4 separate regions of the Homo sapiens genome follow, and regions 1, 3 and 4 are each linked to region 2. Evidence: fine-mapped expression QTL. A gene starts in region 2. Each other region holds a variant in brackets. All regions are shown on one strand. Distances are from middle to middle.

Region 1 (5,528 bases), 160 kb before region 2:
AAAACAGATCTTTCATTGGCACGTTTTGAACTAGATATAGGTAGCTGAAAATATGTTGTCTGCATAACTGAGTAATTCAAATGACTCATGTTCACAGAGTTAAAAAGAGAATTTGATATTAATCATTAAAATATAAAATTATAAATCTAAATTCGTTTAACACACATTCAAAATATAGAAGCCCTGTATTACAATTAAATGGCAAAGAAAAATAATTAAATGTAATAAGCAAAAGAATAACTTCTGTCATTTGGGATAGCAATGGTTGACTTTCTCATACACTAAAATAAAAATATATACCACCAAACGCCCAAGATTTTGAAATGGAAATGATTCTTTTGGTGACTTCGCTAATGTACTAACTGGCTTTGAGTACACAGTAATCACCAAGTGGTTGTTTAGATTTCTGATTAGATGAAACATTATTATTCTAAAAGGGTATTCCAATATATCACCAATTAAAAATATACTATATATACCTACTCAAAATAATTAGTAATGAGAGCCTATTTTTACTAGGAATAAAAACTAGTTAAAACAAACTTTTCTGGCAGATTTAAAATTGATTTGACTCGAGCCAAATGCCACAAAACATATACAATTACACTTAGCTAAAATGAGACCCTGGTCAGGAGTTTGAGACCAACCTGGCCAACATGGTGAAACCATATCTCTACTAAAAATACAAAAATTAGCTGGGCATGGTGGCAGGCACCTGTAATCCCAGCTACTCGGGAGGCTGAGGTAGGAGAATTGCTTGAACCTGCGAGACGGAGGTTGCAGTGAGCCAAGATCGTGCCACTGCACTCAAGGCTGGGTGACAGAGCAAGACTCTGTCAAAAAAAAAAAAAAAAAAAAAAAAAAGCCCTGGAAACACCCTGACATAAATTACAAATGGACAGCTGTTAAAATAATATCTATAAAAATTAGCAATTCAGATCAGTAAAACACAGTTCCCCAATTAGCCACACTGGGGAATTTAAATTAGGTCATGAAATTCGTTAGCACTTTTCCATTCTAGGGCTCTGTACGTATTGCAGAGTTGCAGAATGTTCTCTGCATCGGGGATTTTTACACCCTGAAACTAGTACCTGAGCCAGTGCTAAATAAACCAAAGAAATGACTGAAGGCCATAAGAAAATGGCCACCCTTTTCTTTCTTTGCACTAAGAGGTCCTTGAAATGAGGTGGTTCTCTTTTGTAAAGTAATTGTTCCTACAATCATCTGTCACATTCTTGATCTTTACAGAGAAAAAGGCCCATGTCAGCCTATCTCCCTTCTGAATTATGAATGTCAAATTAGTAGGGCTCATTAAAAGTGCATTTCTCCCCTATGTGTGTTGTGGTATCCCTACAACATATGCTTCCTGAGATCTGGAGTAACATTTAGTATAAGTACACCTCTATAAGGTATCTAGAATGATATTTCCTTGTAGGATATAATTCAGTGTGATCTCCAAACTGTGGTCTGCAATATACTAAATTTCTTATCTTAAATGCAGTACTTTTCAATAAACAACTGCTTTTGATTTTACTTGGATAATTATGGCTGAAAAGTATACTTAAAATAGCATCAATTCCCGTGTTGGCCAGACTGAATACAAGTGAAAACACTAATCCTACCAAACAGAGATTTTTTTTCTCTCACATTATTTGTTGTGTACACGTTAATCTGTTATTTTGTCTTACCGTAATAAAATAAATAAAATATATTCATAATTTTTGCTTTAATCCCATCTGTGGTTAACCAGTTTAGAATAACTTGAAATGGCAACATCAGTGGTCAGAACACACACTTTTGAAGGCTTACATAACTCAAACTCTGCTTGTTGCTGTGACTCCTAGAACCCTTCCTCAGTATTTGCACAGGCATTTATGTGTGCACATCAAACCCACTAACTCATACCATGCCAACAACTGACTAGACTTTCATTAATCCAGGATAGACTAGGCCTGTGCTAAGCATTTTAGATGGTTTCTTTCAATTAATTCTCTCAACAACCCTATCAAATAGGATCCCTTGTACATGAGGAAACAGGACAGCAGAAATTCTGAAATCTGTCCCAAATCACAGTTAGTAAGAGGCAGAGTCTTCAAGTGAATGTAGGTTCACTAAGCTTCAGAAGTTAAGCCCCCAAATACTATACTATCACCTTTCATGACAAAAACCGCAATCACTTTTGCACCAACCTAATACAATGGCAGTCAAGCTAATAACATCTCTCCTCAGTGACCATTGTGTATCTGAACACATTTTGAAACTTTAGAAACATCAATTAGATAACCCTCATACCTTGTCCATTAAGTGCACAGATGACAAGCCCAGATCAGTTACTTTTGCCCACTTTTTGCTATATTCACCCATGATGAAGTTAATTTGTAGCAAACAATCATATTCTAAATCAAAGAACCTGAAATCCTCATAAACTACAGTCTGCACACTTCTCATTATTAATGCCCTGACATACCACTTCACTGGTATATTCTTTTTGGCCAAGGGGAGGAAGACATCTGGTTTTGAAGAGGAAGAAAGAAACGGCAGAAGCATGAAGATCAAAGCCAGGCAGGTAAGTGACTCTGGGCAAGAAGCATCCACCTCTCCAAATCACCTGTGATGCTTCACGTCCTACAGCACCGCGCTAGAGGCACTGCATCATGGAATCATGCTGGATGGGGCTTACGTAACTGACAAGTTCATTCTGGATACCTCTGACTGCCAGATGAAAGGATTCCTCTAGGTACACATAATTAGTACATATCCATTAAGCCAAAAAAGATGTATAAAATATGTTCCATGCCCTTGAGGAATTACAATATAGCTGGGGAGATAACAATATATGCATACCGGTAACAGTATGATGTATAATGATGTGTGCCAGCTATTGTTACAGAAGAATATTATAAGGTCAGAAGTGACATTCTAAGTGCTTTGCAGTTTTGCACACTAAGATCTCTAACAGGAGCCCAAGGCTGCCTTCCTCTTAGAGGAGGTGAAGTCTTAAGATCATATATTCCTCAAGGACAGAATTAGGCTCTGGTGGTAGGAAATGATACGCTCAAAGGATGGCACAAAGGTTTTTCAGGCTGTTTTCCACTTGGCTCCTTCCCTGGGTCTCCTTCTG[T/C]TGTTGGCTGGCTTCACATTGCTCATTTTTCTCTCATGTCCCACACAGCTAGTACAGAAAGTAAATGACTCCCAATTTCCCCTTAATGGGGGCTGGGGAGGGGAAGGGAGCCAATGGGGAGTCTAGGTCTCACCCCAGGGAAAGGCAGAGGGGAAGGTCCAGCTGGTTTTGCTCTACCCTAGGTTTTAGGGGGATACATTGACAATTCTGTTTCCATGGAGTGGAGGAAGGGGAGCTGAAGGTCAAGATGAGGGTGTGAGCCTAGAAGAGAACTGCCAGGGTCTCCACCCAGTCTGCCTTTCACTAGGCTTTAGGCTTCAGGGGCAGAGGAGCCCTGCACATAATCAAACCAGCTTGCCAGAGCAAGAGGCCACATGGGGGTTCATTCGCAGGGTGTCAGGGACCAGGGAAGAGAGAAGTAATGACTCAGAGGTTTGGAAAACAGGCCACTCCATCTGTACCCATCATTGCGAAGCCAGCACCTTATGGCTCCCAAAGCACGTCTAGAAATGTTAACTAGATTTCCTTTTCACAAAAATGTGAATGTGAAGAATACTGGGAAATCATTACTTCCTATTTTATAAGTGAGAAAAACAAAACTCAGAGAGAGAGTACTTGGCTTTGCCAGGATGAGGACTAGGAGGAGTAGGAGCCGGGACTTGGACCAGGATCTTCAAACTCCTGCTGCTGATGCCTTCCCAATATTGAGCTTCTGCCTAGGGCAGCTGCAGGAGGTGGAGGCTTCAAGGAAAGCCTTACAAGATGGGGAATCTGAGCAGGAGCACCCAGTGAATGCTTTGGAGACAAGAACCAAAAATTACTAAATTGGCTGGGTGCAGTGGCTCACACCTGTTATCTTAGCACTTTGGGAGACTGAGGACTTCACTTGAGGTCAGGGGTTCGAGACCAGCCTGTCCAACATGATGAAACTCAGTCTCTACTAAAAACACAAAAATTAGCTGGGTGTGGTGGTGGGTGCCTGTAATCCCAACTACCCAGGAGGCTGAGGCAGGAGAATCGCTTGAACCTGGTAGGTGGAGGCTGCAGTGAACCAAGATTGTGTCACTGCACTCCAGCCTGGGTGACAGAGTGAGACTGTCTCAAAAAAGAAAAGCATTACTAAATTGTAAATAAGAGTCAATAACCACTAAATAATATTCATATTGGAAATAATTTTTGCTAATTTTCTTATTTTATTATATATATAAAATAAGAATGATCTTACTGGATTCAAGAACATCAACTCCAAAATATTAGGCTGTCCCTCTAAACAACATTGCACTTTTCCTAATCTACTGTGGATTCATCATCCATGAATATATATCAACTTTTATAGGAACTGATTTATAGTTTTGGCCTGTACTGTCATTTGGGCAAATGAAGTCCAGCTGTTTACTATCCCCCACAAGAAACAAGATGTCCTTCAATTTGTCTTTGATATATCGTATTTAAGATTTGAGGCACTTTGAGTCTATTTAATTTCAGACCACAGTTGTGTTCAAGGCCTTGGTGAAGAGTTTTGTGTTCACCTCAAACACACTGCTTCTGATTTTATAGGCTTTGATGATTTTCCAGAGTCAATGTCCCTTCTGACAAGAATCATAATTAATTTAGTCTTTGCTTCTACCTCCCAAGATCATTTTGGTTATTAGTTTCTGAATGTTCTCCAGCCAGTTATGCCTCTCTTGGTCTTTGTTGACTAAAACTGCATAGAAACTCTCTGACATAGATAAATCATGGCTTGCACAAGACACTGTTATATTCTGTGCTCCAGGGTGTCCAGTACTTTGACAGCCTCTTTGGGCTGCAGTATTTTCCTGGGAGGAAGCCCCTACATTACAGGTGACAGAGACTCTGAGCTTAGTAGATAGTCCTGTGGTTCAGTAGTACCAGAAAAAATATTAGAGTCACCTGCATATTAGAGTCACCTGCAAACTCAGATTTTTCTGAGCATTTCCTCTTCCGGTCACCAGTAAAAATGTTACAACAAATCAAATACTGAGAAATAGTGCCTGTCTGCACGTCTCAAACTGTCTGTCCCCATTAGTTTTTACCCCTATTAGTTTATAAAATAAAGTTGAATTAAACTAATTCAGCACATGTTCCTGAGTGCAAGATCACAACCCACAAAGGAAACATATTTTCTTGAATAACTGTATGCTTTCAGAAAATTTAAAAATAATATTTTGTTAACATGATAAAGAATATGTATCTTAAACTAAAAATTACAATTATACTCAATGACAGAACATTTTTAATATTATTAAAACTTGAAGCAAAAGAAAGATACTGTCTATAACCATCATTCATTCATTTGACATGTATTTATTGTCAACTAAATAGGTACATGTCCTAAATGTGGGGGACATGATAATTAATACACAGTCTCCCACCATGGACTTTACAT
Region 2 (5,528 bases):
TGTTGAAATGTCTTGATTTTATCCTCAGTAGTACCTTTGCTCCTTCCTCCTCCCAGAATTTCCCTTCCTCAAGAAAGGTGTCAGAACCCCAAAACTTTAGGAGCTGGGTGGAGGTTTCATTGACAGTCAGGTGTGGCTTCTAATTCTGCCATGAAACACCAGGCCTATGAAGTCTGAGTACCCTACACGAGGCCAGGTGCTTTGAGGACAATGAGCACAGATGACTTCCATCCTGGTCCATTACACTTTTCCCTACACCCCTGGCCTCCATCTATTACTTAAAAAGAACTTCCACAAGAATTCACTGTCAGATTTAATGGAGAAAGACCCTGAGCCTCAACGCTTGCCTCCCAATGCCTGTTAACAGGGATTGCTGCTGGTGATGAAAATACTGTTAACTTTTGTGGCACTAGCAGGTGTCAGAGAGTGGAGGAAGCTATGAGACTCCACAATACAGAACTTATGAAAAGAAGAGGTTTGATTCCCTAATAAAGGATATATTGCCCCAAATCCTCTATGAAACCAAATGCTATGGAAATCTACTTGGGCCAACTTTTCCTGTAATCTGTAGTTCCCCAAAGTTTATAAAGAAATAAAAGTGTAACTTTTAAAATATGAGGTCTTGTACAAGGTAAAGAATATTATTTTATCCACATCTACATTTCCAAATGCCCTAACACATTTGTAACTTGGCTGATGTGGTTTTGTTTTTGTTTTGCTTTGTTTTGTTTGTTTGTTTTGGGTTTTTTTTTTTTCCTTTTCTTTTCTCTTTTCTCCAAACGGTCTACTATCTAGACCTGTGGCTTCTGCCACGAAGTGACGTTTGGGGTAACTGTGGCAGCCTCCAGCTGGCCCGGGTCATTTGGCCCATTTTCTTTCCAGCACTTCGGTGGCTCTGCTTCCCCGCACTCGCTCTCATCGTGCAGATGCTCAGGCTTATCACTTCGGATGCTTGCAAGAAGCTGGAGCTCTCCCAGCCTTCACCCCCGCACGACCTCTTCTGGCCACAGACTTGGGAGGGATCTGCATCCTCCCTTGGCTCGAACGCGAGTGCCAGCATCGTCCTTGCGACCTGGGCTTGCGCTCGCCTGTCCCTGGCACCCCTGGCTCCCGCAGCCGAGACGAGGGAGCTGCGGGGTCACGCCTTCTCGCTGGAGCGGCTCTTTCCCTCCCGTCAAACCCCTTCCTTACTTCTGCTAAAGACAGGCGGCCTCTCTCCTAATAAACCACACACACACACACACACACACACACACACACACACACACACACACACACACAAGTTTTGACTTGAGCTTGAGACGCACACAGCGCCGAGGATCCTCGGGTTACTGGGGGCGACACTGCTGGCCAGGCTGACCAGCGCCCTCGGGCATCCCCAAACCCCTGGATGCAACCCGTTCCCCGCGCCAGGCTAGCTGCGGGCGGCGGGGTGGGCAGCGGCAGCCAAGGGACAAGCCAGCCCGGGGACAGCGCGGAGCCACTAGGGCCGGCGGGCAGGCGGGGGATCTGCGGGACAGAATTCTCAGAGCGGACGGTGGCAAAGGGCTAAACCCACCCACACTCCCCGGGGCGCGGGACGGGACTGAACTGCGGTCACTAACAATGCAACGAAGAGGACCTTCCCTTCCCTTCGCCACTCCCCGCGCCGCCAGGCCTGAAGATACACACACTCCGGCACACCCCACACACCCATCCACTCCGCCCCAGTCCGGATCCGGGTGGCGGAGGTGGGGCGGGGGGAAGGTGAGCGGTGCCTCGCCCCGGGGTACCTGCCGGCAGCGCAACCCAGCGGCGCCCCCGCCTCGGTGAGGACAGTCGGACGCGCGGGAGGAAGAAGGCGCTCCCGACCGCGGCACAGATGCTCACGGGCTTAGCACCTGGAGAGACCCGGGGCGGCGGCGGCGCGCGGTGGCAGCGCGAGAAGTCCCCGCCGCGACCCTCTCCCCGCCGCACAACTTTGCGCTGTCGGCGCCGCCCTAGCGCCTGCCCAGCTTCCTTACCCAAGTACTGCCGCAGGTCGAGCAGGAAGCGAGGGGGTCCCCCGCTGAGCTGATAGAGGAGGGAGCCCAGGCAGAAGACCAGCAGGGTGGCCATGCAGAAGCCGTAGTCCCGGAGGGAGAAGCGCAGGAAAGGCAGCAGGGGCACCCGACGCTTCCAGCTGCCCAGGCCCGGAGGGGCGCCCCCCATAGGGGCCCCATGGGGCCAGGGATCCGCGCCGCCGCCGGGATGCTGCTGCTTCTTCTTCATCGCCTGCTCCGCTGCCTCCCACAGCCTGCCCGTGCCAGGAAAAGGTCACCCATCCGCCGCGAGGAGGAGAGCCCGGCTGGCCGGCTGCACATGGGGAGGGCCGCGCGGAGGGCAGCCGGGTGGGGGCGGGGAGGGGCCGAAGTTGCCGGGCTCAGGAGACTTTCTTCGGCATGGTCCCCGCCGCCGCGGCCCGAGCGGCCGAGGTGTCCGGCCCCGGTTCGGGGCGCTGCCCGTGACGGGGCGCCGCGCCCGTCCGGCGCCCGCTAGCGTCCCCACGCCCCGCGCCCCGCCGCGCCTCGGGCTCGCTTGCGGCCGCCGGGGCTCGCCTCCAGCGCCAGCGTGGACCCCCCGGCTTTGTGTCTGTAGGTCTCGGCGTGTTTTGTCCCGGTTCAGGCTTCTCTAAAAAACGGCAGGGAGGAACAGGAGGCGGACACCATCCCCTCGCTCCACCTCCTTGACAGGGGTTTTCCTCCTTCTCCTCCCCTTTCTCCCTCCGGCGCTCCGCAGCACTCTCCTCCCTCTCCCCTCCCTCTCCGCTCGGGTCTCGGGATTTCGCTCGGGTGTCACGTTACTGCTTCTGCTGGGGGCGGAGGGGGGGAGGCGGCGATTATTCGCAACAAGGAAGAAAGTTTCTGGGTGTTTTCTTTTTTTTTCCTTCCCCCGTTCTTTACAATCTGGATGCGGTTCCTGCGCCACCAGCGACCTCTTGGGGGCCCCGCTGACTTCCCTCTTGTAAACAGTCACCGGCAGGAAGAAGCACGACTGACTTTACTATTTACATTTTTTTCAGTTCAGAAAGTTGATTCTCCTTATATACCCCGTGCGAGCTGCTTACCCAAGGCTGATAAAAGGTACTAGAATACAGGCTCAAGACTTTGCTGAAATGGGAAAAGAGCAAGCGGTGCGAGTTATGGTCAAACACGCCCCAGAGGGCCAGGCGCAGCGCCTGAACTCCCGGGTAGGGTAGCCGAAGAGGACGCTCTGTTCTTGCTTTTCCTGGTCCTACAACTGCTCCACCTCGCAGTGCCCAGAGAGGCAAGTGGGGGGTGCATAGCGGACTCTAGGAGGTCATTGCCCTGCAGACATGAAGGGGAAAGAGCCCAGTCCGCCTATACGCTGATTTCATTGCTGCCTCTCTTCCCTCCACGGGAAAGCCTCTGGACCTGAAAGAACCTCCTGGGGCAGAAAAGGCTCAATCCTAGACATAGATCCTCTGATGGGGTGGTTGATCCACGGAAGGGCTGCTCTGATCAGCCACACTTTAAGTAAGAATACTATATCACTATTTATAGAAGCTGTAGCACCTGAGGGCTGTGTGACTCACCCGAGGTCCCAAAGCTAGTAGTAGGAGTTGGGTTGGGAGTTGCACTCAAATCTATTTGACCCTCAGACCCACTATACTAACCACTGCACAGCAGTACTTCCCAGCCAGAGCCCTTTTCCTTCACGTCCCATAGGAGGATGAGATTTAATTCATTTAGTTCAGGCCACATTGAGAAATGGAAACCTCAGTTTCTGGTGCCTATCATTTCTGGCTCCCTACTCATTTGTATATTCCAGTAATGAACAATTGGATTTAAGAAGGAACCAGGAGCCAAGAACCTCTATGATTCTAAGACTAGGCTCCTGAAAACCTTCATCAAGTTAGGCATCTGAAGAATATTCTGTGGAAAATTACAAAATATTATCCTAGACAAAGAACTTACTCGTTAAGAATATGTCTTAACCTCAGCTACTCAGGAGGCTGAGGCAGGAGAATCGTGTGAACCCGGGAGGCGGAGGTTGCAGTGAGTCGAGATCGCGCCATTGCACTCCAGCCTGGGCGACAGTGCGAGACACCGTCTCAAAAAAAAAAAAAAAGAAAGAAAAGAAAAGAAAGAAAGAAAGAATGAATATGTCTTAACCATGTTCATATATGAATGTCTCTGGTTCATGATTTGAAACATATATCATGAGCTAGAGAGATGTGTAGATGAGGTGACAGGTGCTGCACACACACAGAGACACACGTACACACACACAACTCTACTGTCCAATTTTACATTGTCCTAGCCCACTTTCTAAGGGATGAGAAGGCTGTTTTGGGGCCCCAAGAGAAAAGAAAATATTTTGTTCTGTGACAGAAAACCCTGAATAGAGTGTTAATCATTTGCTTTACATTTATCTCATGAATCAGGGTTTTATTTGGATTAATATGCACATTTTAGAAATGTGACTTCCCCTAAGAGAATTGAGTAGATCAGTCATTGCCCATTAATGTGAATTACTTTAATCAGTACAATGAGTAGCCCAGAACAGACTCCCAATTAATAACGTTTGAGCTTAAGAAGAGGGACTAGGAGACAGAAGGAGCAAAGCAGTGTTCATAATGTTTCAGGGACCGCCTTCCACAAACTGGACCTGTATCTGAGGCCTGGCCCTGTAATCTGAACACTCGCTGGATATAAAATAGTGTGCAAGACCCTCTGTGTTCACAAGTCCCACCCCCAGGAAGTTCAGAGACTTTTCTCACAGCATGCTGTGGGAAATACCCCAATTTTTTCTCCTAAGGAAAGGAATCTGAGGAACAGGGAGATGGAGCAGGAAGAAAGGAAACAAACATTTGAGAAAATAAGTAAATATGAGAATAAATGTTGTTTTAAAAAACGATGAAAAAGTTGCAAGGAAAGTACAAGGGGGCAAAGTCCAGCTTAGAAGAAACAAGCTATGACATGAACTATTTCAGAGAGAATAAACAGGTCAATCTTTAAAAGATTGTGTTAATAGACTCGCCGCCTAAAAAAACTCACAGAAGAAAAAGAAGAGATATCAAGATACAAAGAAGTTTCACATGGAAAAAAATGCTTTATATTTTCACCCAACAAAAACTTAGTTGTTTGGGTAAAACTTTGTTCTTTGAAGTCCCATAAATATCCCTTCAGAAAAAAAAATTAAATTTAAAGTACTTAGACTAATTAATGGTATCTTTATTCAAAGCAGATAACAAATCTAATTAGAGGAAGTTGTGAACGAATTTTATTATTAGTCTTATAATGAAATATACTTTATTCAGCACCTTGACCTCCATTCAATATCTTTAGCTTCTCAATTCCTTCTCTCTCCAGTGACTCATTTGACCTTGTCCTCACTGATGACTAATTGCATCTCCGAAATCTCCTTTTCCCCCTTCACAACCTTCTATCCTTCTGTTTGGCTTCTTTGGAGCCCACCCTGTTTTTCGGTCTTTTCAAGAACTGTCAAGTCTGTGTTCATCCATCTCATGTGTTTACTTCTTTCTT
Region 3 (5,528 bases), 160 kb after region 2:
AATATGAGATTATGTAAAAAGACCAAACCTATGACTGATTGGGGTACCAGAAAGAGACAAGGAGAATGGAACCAAGTTGGGAAACATACTTCAGGATAGTATCCAGGAGAACATCCCCAACCTAGCAAGACAGGAAAACATTCATATTCAGAAAATGCAAAGAATCCCAGTAAGATGCTCCATGAGAAGATCTACCCCAAGACACATAATCACCAGTTTCTTCAAGGTCGAAATGAAAGGAAAAATGTTAAGAACAGCCAGAGAGAAAGGCCAGGTCACCTACAAAGGGAAGCCCATCAGACTAACAGTGGACCTCTCAGCAGAAACCCTACAAGCCAGAAAAGACTGGGGGCCAATATTCAACATTTTTAAGGAAAATAATATCCAACCCAGAATTTCATCTCCAGCCAAATTAATCTTCATAAGTGAAGGAGAAATAAGATCCTTTTTAGACAAGCAAGTGCTCAAGGAATTGATCATCACCAGACATGCCTTGCAAGAGTTCCTGAAGGAAGCACTAAATATGGGAAGGAAAAACTGTTAGCAGCCACTACAAAAGCACACTGAAGTACACAGACCAATGACACTATGAAGCAACTACATAAACAAGTCTGCAAAATAAACAGCTAGCATCATGATGACAGGATCAAATCTACACATAATAATACTAACGTTAAATGTAAATGGCCTGAATCCCCCAATTAAAAGACATAGAATGGCAAGCTGGATGAAGAACCAAGACCCATCAGTATGTTGTCTTCAACAGACCCATCTCACATGAAAAGACACACATAGGCTCAATATAAAGGGATGGAAGAAAATTTACTAAGCAAATGGAAAACAGAAAAAAGCAGGGGTTCCACTCCTAGTTTCTGAAAAAAACAGACTTTAAACCAACAAAGATAAAAAAAAGACAAGGGCATTATATAATGTTAAAGGGTTCGATTCAATAAGAAGAGCCAACTATCCTAAATATATATGCACCCAATACAGAAGCACCCAGATTTATAAAGCAAGTTCTTAGATACCTTCAAAGAGACTTAGACACCCACACAAGAATAGTGGGAGACTTTAACACCCCATTGACAATATTAGACAGATTATCAAGGCAGAAAATTAACAAAGATATTCAGGACCTGAATTCAGCTCTGGATCAAGTAAACCTCATAGATAGCTACAGAACTCTCCACCCAAAACCAACAGAGTAAACATTCTCCTCATCACCACATGACACTTATTTTAAAATTGGTCACATAATCAGAAGTAAAACACTCTTCAGCAAATGCAAAAGAACTGAAATCATAACAAATAGTCTCTCAGACCACAGCACCATCAAATTAGAATGCAAGATTAAGAAATTCAGTCAAAATCACACAACTGCATGGAAATGGAACAATCTGCTCCTGAATGACTCTTGGGTAAATAATGAAATTAAGGCAGAAACCACGAAGATCTTTAAAACTAATGAGAGCAAAGATAAAACATATGAGAATCTCTGGGACATAGCTAAAGCAGTGTTAAGAGGGCAATTTATAGCACTAAATACCTGCATCAAAAAGCTGGAAAGATCTCAAATTGACAACCTAACATCTCAACTAAAAGAACTAGAGAACCAAGAGCAAACAAACACCAAAACTAGCAGAGGACAAGAAATACCAAGATCAGAGCTGAACTGAAGGAGATAGAGACACGAAAAACCCTTCAAAAAATCAAGGAATCCGGGAGCTTTTTTTCTGAAAAAATTAATAAAATAGACCACTAGCGACACTAATAAAGAAGAGAGAATATTCAAATAACACAACCAGAAATGATAAGGGGGCTGTCATCACTGACCCCACAGAAATACAAACAACCATCAGAGAATACTATAAACACCTCTATGCACATAAACTAGAATATCTGGAAGAAATGGATAAATTCCTGGACACATACACCCTCCCAGGACTGAGCCAGGGAGAAACTGAATCCCTGAATAGAAACAATAATGAGTTCTGAAATTGAGGCAATAATAAATAGTCTACCAACCAAAGAAAGCCCAGGAGGTACAAAGAAGGATTCTATCAGAGGTATAAAGAAGAGCTGGTACCATTTCTACTGAAACTATTCCAAAAAAATTGAAAAGGAGGGACTCCTCCCTAACTCTATGAGGCCAGCAGCATCCTGATACCAAAACCTGGCAGATTAAAACCAAAGAAAAGAAATGAAAAGAAAACTTCAGGCCAGTGTTCTGATGAACATCAATGCAAAAATCCTCAATAAAATACTGGCAAACTGAATCCAGCAGCTCATCAAAAAACTTATCCACAACAATCAAGTAGGCTTCATTCCCAGGATGCAAGTTTGGTTCAACCTACAGAAATCAATAAATGTGATTCATCACATAAACAGAACTAAAGACAAAAAACACATGATTATCTCAATAGATGCAAAAAAGGTCTTTGATAAAGTTCAACATCCCTTCATGTTAAAAACTCTCAATAAACTAGGTATCGAAGGAACATAACTCAAAATAATAAAAGCCATATATGACAAACCCACAGCCAATATCATACTGAATGGGCAAAAGCTGGAAGCATTCCTTTTGAAAACCAGCACAAGACACAGATGCCCGTCTCTCACAACTCCTTTTCAACATAGTATTGGAAGTTCTGGCCAGGAAAATCAGGCAAGAGAAATAAATAAAGCGTATTCAAATCAGAAGAGAGAAAATCAAACTATCTTTTTTTGCAGATGACGTAATCCTATATCTAGAAAACCCCATTATCTCAGCTCAAAGGCTTCTTAAGCCGATAAGCAACTTTGGCAAAGTCTCGGGATACAAAATCAATGTGCAAAAATAGCTAGCATTCCTATACACCAACAACAGGCAAGTAGAGAGCCAAATCATGAATAATCTCCCATTTACAATTGTCACAAAAAGAATAAAATACCTAGGAATACAGCTAACAAGGGAAGTGAAGTTCTCCTCTTCAAGAACTACAAACCACTGCTCAAAGTAATCAGAGATGACACAAACAAATGGAAAAACATTCCATGCTCATGGAAAGAAAGAATCAATATCGTGAAAATGGCCATACGGTCCAAAGCAATTTATAGATTCAATGCTGTTCCCATAAATTACCATTGACATTCTTCACAGAATTAAAGAAAACTATTTTAAAATTTATATGGGACCCAAAAAGCTCCCAAATAGCCAAGACAATTCTAAGCAAAAATA[A/G]CAAAGCTGGAGGCATCACACTACCCAACTTCAAACTATACTACAAGGCTACAATAACCAAAACAGCATGGTACTGGTACAAGAAGACCAATGGAACAGAATAGACACATAGACCAATGGAACATAATAGAGAACCCAGAAATAAGACCGTACACCTACAACCATCTGATCTTTGACAAATCTGATCAAAACAAGCAATGAGGAGAGGATTCCTTATTTAATAAGTGGTATTGGGAGAACTGGCTAACCATATGCAGAATATTGAAACTGGACCCCTTCTTTATACCATATACAAAAATGAACTCAAGATGGATTAAAGACTTAAATATAAAATGTACAACTGGCTGGGCATGGTGGCTTACACTGGTAATCCCAGCACTTTGGGAGGCAGAGGCAGGTGGATCACCTGAGGTTGGGAGATCGAGACCAGCCTGACCAACATGGAGAAACCCTGTCTCTACTAAAAATACAAAATTACCTGGGCGTGGTGGCCCATGCCTGTAATCCCAGCTACTCGGGAGGCTGAGGCAGGAGAATCACTTGAACCCGGGAGGTGGAGGTTGCAGTGAGCCAAGATCGCGCCATTGCCCTCCAGCCTGGGCAACAAGAGTAAAACTCCATCTCAAAAACAAACAAAAAAACAAACAAAACCTAAAATTATAAAAACTCTAGAAGAAAATCTAGATAATACCATTCAGGACATAGGTATAGGCAAAGATTTCATGACAAAGACACCAAAATCAATTGCAACAAAGCAAAAATTGACAATGGGATCTAATTAAACTAAAGAGCTTCTGCACAGCAAAGGAAACTATCATCAGAGTGAACAGACAACCTATAGAATGGGAGAAAATTTCTGCAATCTATCCATCTGACAAAAGTCTAACATCCAGCATCTACAAGGCACTTAAACAAATTTACAAGAAAAAAACAAATAATCCCATTAAAAAGGACATAAACAGACACTTCTCAAAAGAAGACATACATGCAAAACATAGGAAAAAAAGCTCAACATCACTGATCATTAGAGAAATGCAAATCAAAACCCCAATGTGATACCATCTCAAGCAAGTCAGAATGAAGATTATTAAAAAGTCAAAAAACAACAGAATGCTGACAAGGTTGTGGAGAAAAAGGAACACTTTTACACTTTTGGTGAGAGTGTAAATTAATTCAGCCTTTGTGGAAGACAGTGTGGTGATTCCTCAAAGACCTAGAGGCAGAAATACCATCTGACCCAGCAATTCCATTACGGGGCATATACCCAAAGGAATATAAATTATTATAAAGATACATGCAATAATTGTATGTTCATTGCAGCACTATTCACAATAGCAAAGACATGGAATCAACCAAATGCCCATCAATGATAGACTGGATAAAGAAAATGTGGCACATATACGCCATGGAATACCATGCCACCATAAAAAGGAATGAGATCGTGGTTTTTGCAGGGACGTGAATGGAATTGGAAGCCATTATCCTCAGCAAACTAATGCAGGAACAGAAAACCAAGTATTTCATGTTCTCACTTATAAGTGGGAGCTGAATGATGAGAACACATGGATACATGGTGAGGAACAAAACACAACTGGAGCTTGTCAGAGGGTGTGAGGTGGGAGGAGGAAGAGCATCAGGAAGAATTGCTAATGGATGCTGGGCTTAATACCTAGGTGATGGTATTTCTGGTAGTTAGGCATGAGTGGATCAGGAGAGGGCTCTTTTCCACCCACTGGGAATGTCGAGTGATGGTTTGGCAGTTATCACATTGCCTTTCTAAAAGCAATGAATTGGAAGCCAGTGCCAGGAAGGAGCCATTTCCTGATGGTCAACACCTGCCCAACTAAAGTGCTAATTGGATTCATATGCCAGGGAGAAACAACTTCCCAGCACATGCATTAAGACAAAATGGTGGAGTATGACCTTCCGAGGGCATACCGCCAGCAAAGGGAAGAAAGTCTCAGATGGTCATGCGTACAACTTCCTAACCACACTGTACGTGCTCTCCTCCCAACGGTAAGGAGGGCACTGTGCATGCTGGCAGCCCACCCTAAGGGAAGAATCATGGGAAAGGGGCCAGCCTGGAAAGTCCTAGGATCAAGGTTAAACAGAGCACTTGATCTGAGTGCCCACTTGGGTCTCTTCCAAGCATAGTTTTCTTTCTTTCTTTCCTGTTCTAAAGCCTTTTAAAATAAACTTCCGCTCTTGTTCTGAAACTCGCCTTGGTCTCTTTTTCTGCCTTATGCCTCTCTGTCTAATTCTTTCTTCTGAGGAGGCAAGAATTGAGGTTGCTGCAGACCCATACGGATTC
Region 4 (5,528 bases), 150 kb after region 2:
ATTTCATTCTCATGCAATTTCCTCATCATGTGAACATCATAGAGTGTACTTAAGTGTACTTATGCAAACCTAGAAGGTAGAACCTAGTACACACCTAGCCTATTGCTCCATCCACGGTCATGTAGGCAGTCCGTCATTGACCAAAACATCATATAGGACACATGACTGTTTTGAATAATTTTTAAGAAGCTTTAGTCTGTATCTCATCAAAAAGCATCAAAGCATATTTTGGGAAATAACAAATTACATTATATATTAGATAATTATTGAGATCATGCTATAAAGTAGAGGAAGGCAAGTGTATTAAGTATTTAGAAAGAAAGTATCCATATTTAAAATGCTGCTGATAATGCTGGAGAAATGATTATTAATTGGCAGGCTGAGTACAGGATACTTTTCATGTGTATGAATGAAAGTTCAATCAGGGAAGAGGAATGACAATGAGGATGATGGAATAGGACTTTCTTACAGGGATTAAACCTTACACAAGTGTGGGAGGAGCTGGAAGTAAAGGTCTGACATGAGAGCTGGAGGTTCTGGGAAAATGCCCTATGCAGCCCTCCTGAAGCACTGGGACAGATGGGCAAGTCAGCACTTGCAGGGATTCCGGGAAGCCAGCAGATCCAGATGCTGGAGAGGAAGGACAGTGGAGAGCTGATGGGGAAGTCCAGGCAAGATGTTGCTCCTACACCTGGTGGTGGACCACAGTCGATGCTGGTCAGCAGGGCCAGCTGGCAGGAGGAGGGGCTGAATGCAGAGCAGGGAAGCATGATGACCACTGGCAGTAACTGGCATCTCAGCATCTGTTTTTACTGAGCATGCTTTGGCCAACTTTCTTTTGGCCAATTCTAACTCAGAACCATACTGGGAAGGGAATTCTGTGAAACATAATTCTAACCAGCCGAAGTTAACACAGTATAAAGCCACTGTAGCATAAGATAAAGTTAAGAAACAGGAATAAGATGGGAACTACTCTCCTCAAGCAAGAATAATGGCCAGAGGTGTAACCGTCACTTCATGGTTAAAACAATTAACGCAGATATGAACTCTCCCGCTAAGGTGAATCAGGCTTATTTGGACCTTTCTGTTGGGCCTACATGGGTTTTCTAAAGGCCACAAATCCAGGCATCAATAGGCCTGGCCACAATACAAGCAGCTGAGAGCCAATACTATCCACCACTTCTCTGCATGCCTCTGCAAGTTTGTAACTGTGCAGATGCACGAGTAACAGTTAAGGTCACCTAGTCATTCATTCAGCGTGGATTCATGGAGCATCGATGTGCCAAGCACTGTTCCAGAACCTGCAGCTATGGTAGTGAACGCAGTAGACCCAGTTTCTGCTCCATGTCTGTGAAGGGGATGGGAGATAGGCAATTGTCGATATTTGTCCATACTCTATGTGGGATGGAGGTAAGAGCCATAAATACAAAGAAAGGCTCATGTTGACTTTTTATTATTTGTGCAAATTTATGGGGTACATGTGAAATTTTGTTACATGTATATAATGTATAGTGATCAAATTAGGGTGTCCATCTCCTGGGTGCAATACATTTTTGTTTAACTATAGTCACCCTATTCTGCTATCAAACATTGAATTTATTCCTCCTACGTAACTGTATGTTGGCAGGGCACAATTTTAGAGAGGGATCGGTGATGCTGTTTTAGACACGGCAAGCAAGGAAGGCCTTTTTGAGGAGGAAGTTGATGAAGAATGGAGCTCCGTGGCTCTCTGGGAGGAAGGTCACAGGAACAGATGTGCAAAGGCTCAGACAGTGGAAAATACTTCACATGCTCGAGGAACCCCAGACAAGAGTGACTGGAGCAGCAAGGGTCAGGAGGAGACGGAGAGGATATGAGGTCAGAGACCATGGTTAAGACTTAAAATTTCATCCCAGTGGGAGTGAAAGTCCCCTAAGGGTTTCAGCAGCCACGTGGCCTCCTCTGAATGCAAGGGAAATGGAGCCACTCCTGCCCAGTCAGAGTTAACTGGAGTTTTATGTATGGCTTACACTTGTACCGCTAAGTAGAGGTACAGAGGGAAAATTTGGGCGATAATTTAACTTTTGACTGGATGAAGGCACGGGGGTGTCAGAACGGCTCATTTTTTTCCCTAGATAATTTAGTTTCACAACCATGCCTTGTAACTGGCTGAGGGCCTTATCTGTCAGAAACTTAGCCATCCGGCTCTACAAATGAAATCTCATGAGCTCTCACTCCTCATCTGGAGCCTGGACCCCTCAATGGGGCCCCAGGCAGCAGGGCAACAGCATCATGTCAGCATCATGTCAGCGTCCTGCCACCCCTCTCCATGCAGCAGAAGCAGACGGGAGAAAGGGCGGCGACTCCTGTAGAGAGGGGGCTTAACCCGTGAGCGTGAGAGGCAGTGGTGGAAGTCATTTGCTAAGTCAGAAGAGGCCCAAACATAGGGAAAAGGTCGTGTGAGTATAATTTCAACTTCCACTTCCATTTCACGGCCACATGCCACTTCTCGTAGTCATAACAATGTTAAAACTGGAACAAAATAATCGTTTAGGGAACTTCAAGTCCTATAAATGATCAAACTGTGCTGAGCAGTGCTAGGATTCCACAGAGGTGAC[T/C]CAGGGACACTCTGGAGAATGTCACTGGATGTGAGGAGAAGCCCGTGGGTGGACAGAGGGTCTCCTCCCTTCCAAGCCCTACCCTCTGCTTCCATCTATGCTGGATTGGCTATTTATCTAAGATTTTGCTTCAAGGAAGAGTTTTGGCGCCAAAAAGTAAACAACAACAACAATAACAACCAAAAAAAACAGATTCTGAGATTAATTAGGACTAACTATGTGCCAGGCACTCCACTGAATTTTTTTTTACAAACATTATCTCATTAATCCTCCAATAGCCCTATGAAGTAGATATTATAGTCCTATTAATGAGAAAATTAAGACTTAGTGGAGTTAAGTAAATTTTTCATGTCTCACAGTACTGCAAAGCCAAGATTTGAACCCAGGCCAACTCATCTGACACCTCAACCTCAACTCCTAACTTTTATGCCATCCTGAAAAAAGAAAACCTATCAACCAAGGTTATTCTCATTACCATTCAAGGAAATGTCTTAAAATGTTTAGAATAGCCATTGTGTTCATCTGCTTGGGCTGCCAGAACAAAGTATCACAGACTGCATGTCTTAAACAACAGAAATTTATTTTCTCACAGTTGTAGAGGCTAAGAAGTCCAAGATCAAGGTGCTGGCAGATTTCGTGTCTGGTGAGGACTCCCCTCCTGGATTGCAGATGGCACCTTCTCACAGTGTCCTTTCATGACCTTCCTTGGTGCACACGTGTGCAGAGAGAGAATGCTGATATATTTTCCTCTTCTTAAAAGAGCACCAGGCCAGGCGTGGTGGCTCACGCCTGTAATCCCAGCACTTTGGGAGGCCAATGCGGGAGGATCAAGAGGTCAGGAGATGGAGACCATCCTGGCTAACATGGTGAAACCCTGTCTCTACAAAAAATATAAAAAATTAGCCGGGTGTGGTGGCACGTGCCTGTAGTCCCAGCTACTCGGGAGTCTGAGGCAGGAGAATCACTTGAGCCTGGGAGGCAGAGGTTGCAGTGAGCTGAGATCGCACCATTGCACTCCAGCCTGGGCAACAGAGCGAGACTCCATCTCAAAAAAAAAATTTAAAAAAAGGTACCAGACCTATCAGATTAGGGACCCATATGTGTGACCTCAGTTAATTTTATTACCTTCTCATAGTTGCTATCTCCAAGTATTGTCACATTGAGGATTAAGATTTCAACATAAGAATTTTGAGGATACACAAATATTCAGTCCTTAACAGCCATAAAGGCTAATATAATACTGACACTTATAGAGCTTTCACTATTTAATATATCCTTATGTAGTGCTTACTCTAAGCAGAGCCCTATTCTAAGTGTGAAAATATTGACTCATTTAGTACTTCCAATAGCCCCAGGAGGTAGTTGCTATCAATATTTTCAGATAAGGAAAAGACTGAGGCACAGAAAAAATGATTAATTTGTTCCCTAGTGGTGAGCAGTGATGTAAACCTGTCAAATACTTCACACACACACACACACAAAAAGTTTAATCATCCCTCAGCCTCCCTGGGGGATTGGTTCCACAACTCTGCAGATACCAAAATCCCTGGATGCTCAAGTCCCTGATACAAAATGGCATAGTATTTGCATATAACCTGTGCACATCCTTCTGTATACTTTAAATCATCTCTAGATTACTTATAATACTTAACACAGGCCAGGTGCAATGGCTCACACCTGTAATCCTAACACATTGGGAGGCTGAGGTGGGAAGATGGCCTGAGCCCCAGAGTTTGAGATGGCAGTAAGCTATGATTGTGCTACTGCACTCCAGCCTGGGCAACATAGTGAGACCCCAACTCTAAAAAAAATTTAAATACCTAATATAATGTAAATGTTGTGTAAATAGTTGTTACTGTATATTGTTTCCTATTTGTATTATTTTTTGTTGTTATATTGTTATTTTTGTTGTTGTTGTTTCAAATATTTTCAAGTCAGCATTGGTTGGATCCAAGGATGTGGAGCCCACAGATTTGGAGGGCTGACTATAACTGAGGGATCAGGCTCCTTTCCCACCCATGGCTCCACCTTCTTCAATGGATGCTTCCCATGTCACCATGGAAGGGAAAATAACGTGAGAGGTTCTATGCGTCAGCTCTGGCTTCCTCTCACATTCCATTGGCTAGAACTCAGTCATGTGACCACACCTACCCGTGAGAGAGGCTGGGAAATGCAATCCAGTTGTGCGTCCATGACAAAAAGGAAAACGTTAGGTGAAAAACTCGCAATATCTTCTACTATAAAGACACAATAAGTAATATAAAATATTCTCAATTTATTTGGAGAAAATAACCCAATTTCTGTATTTGATTTTTTTAAGTTGCATATCCAGGAGGGCTAAATGGCAATAGATAATTTTTTTTTTTAAGCAAATGACATTTTCAGAATAGAGTAGCCACATGTCCCAAGACAGAATCCACATCATTTACTGCCTGTGCCAGTGCCATGGCTAGGCAATCTGTGAAAGTCTCCCCTTTGTTTTTCTTCTTTTTCCTGTGTGCACCCCTATTCTTTCCCTCTGAACCTTATTTCCTCCTCCCCACCAGTTTCATTTTCACTTTTGTGTGGTTCCATTCTCACCTGTTTTGGGCATGAATGGACAGGGGCACCACAGACATCACCAGCCCCCCTCACTTTGGTGGCCCTTGAGCTGAAGGAGGAAAAAAAGCTGTTTAGTGGAGCTGAGAGGGGGCTGGGCACAGATAGTGCCTGGTTTGTCCCAGCCCCGACACTTTCCAGCTCTAGTTGACCCAGGACAACTTTGCTGCTCATTTTTCCCACTGGTTAAGGTCCAGGTGTATACAGGAATACGTTGGAGATATTGTGGGTCCTGTTCAAACCACTGCAATAAAGTGAATGTCACAAAAATGCACGTCACAAAAATTTTTTTGTTTTCCCAGTATATCTAAAAGTTATGTTTACACTATACCA

The links.
Region 1: its variant is fine-mapped to the expression of UST in cerebellar hemisphere (GTEx, PIP above 0.99). The same link has a PIP of 0.9 or more in cerebellum.
Region 3: its variant is fine-mapped to the expression of UST in gastroesophageal junction (GTEx, PIP above 0.99). The same link has a PIP of 0.9 or more in breast.
Region 4: its variant is fine-mapped to the expression of UST in esophagus muscle (GTEx, PIP above 0.99). The same link has a PIP of 0.9 or more in fibroblasts, sigmoid colon, subcutaneous fat, sun-exposed skin, transverse colon and visceral fat.

Annotation. Positions count from the first base shown.
Region 1 is chr6:148,903,239-148,908,766 of GRCh38, reverse strand. The region is part of intron 2 of UST (uronyl 2-sulfotransferase); the gene reads right to left. Among named protein-coding and RNA genes, the nearest start is that of UST-AS1, 59 kb to the left of the region's middle. The variant T/C (reference allele first, on the strand shown) is at 3,122.
Region 2 is chr6:148,744,153-148,749,680 of GRCh38, reverse strand. UST (uronyl 2-sulfotransferase) reads right to left here and starts at 2,651. Exons shown (of 8, transcript NM_005715.3): 1 at 2,004-2,651. The coding sequence starts at 2,250. It overlaps LOC124901425 (a long non-coding RNA gene), which reads left to right and starts at 4,082. Exons shown (of 2, transcript XR_007059806.1): 1 at 4,082-5,528. RefSeq lists enhancers at 513-1,012, 1,013-1,514, 2,823-2,902, 2,963-3,022 and silencers at 1,693-1,862, 2,163-2,252.
Region 3 is chr6:148,581,050-148,586,577 of GRCh38, reverse strand. No RefSeq gene overlaps it. Among named protein-coding and RNA genes, the nearest start is that of UST, 160 kb to the left of the region's middle. The variant A/G (reference allele first, on the strand shown) is at 3,218.
Region 4 is chr6:148,590,272-148,595,799 of GRCh38, reverse strand. No RefSeq gene overlaps it. Among named protein-coding and RNA genes, the nearest start is that of UST, 150 kb to the left of the region's middle. The variant T/C (reference allele first, on the strand shown) is at 2,598.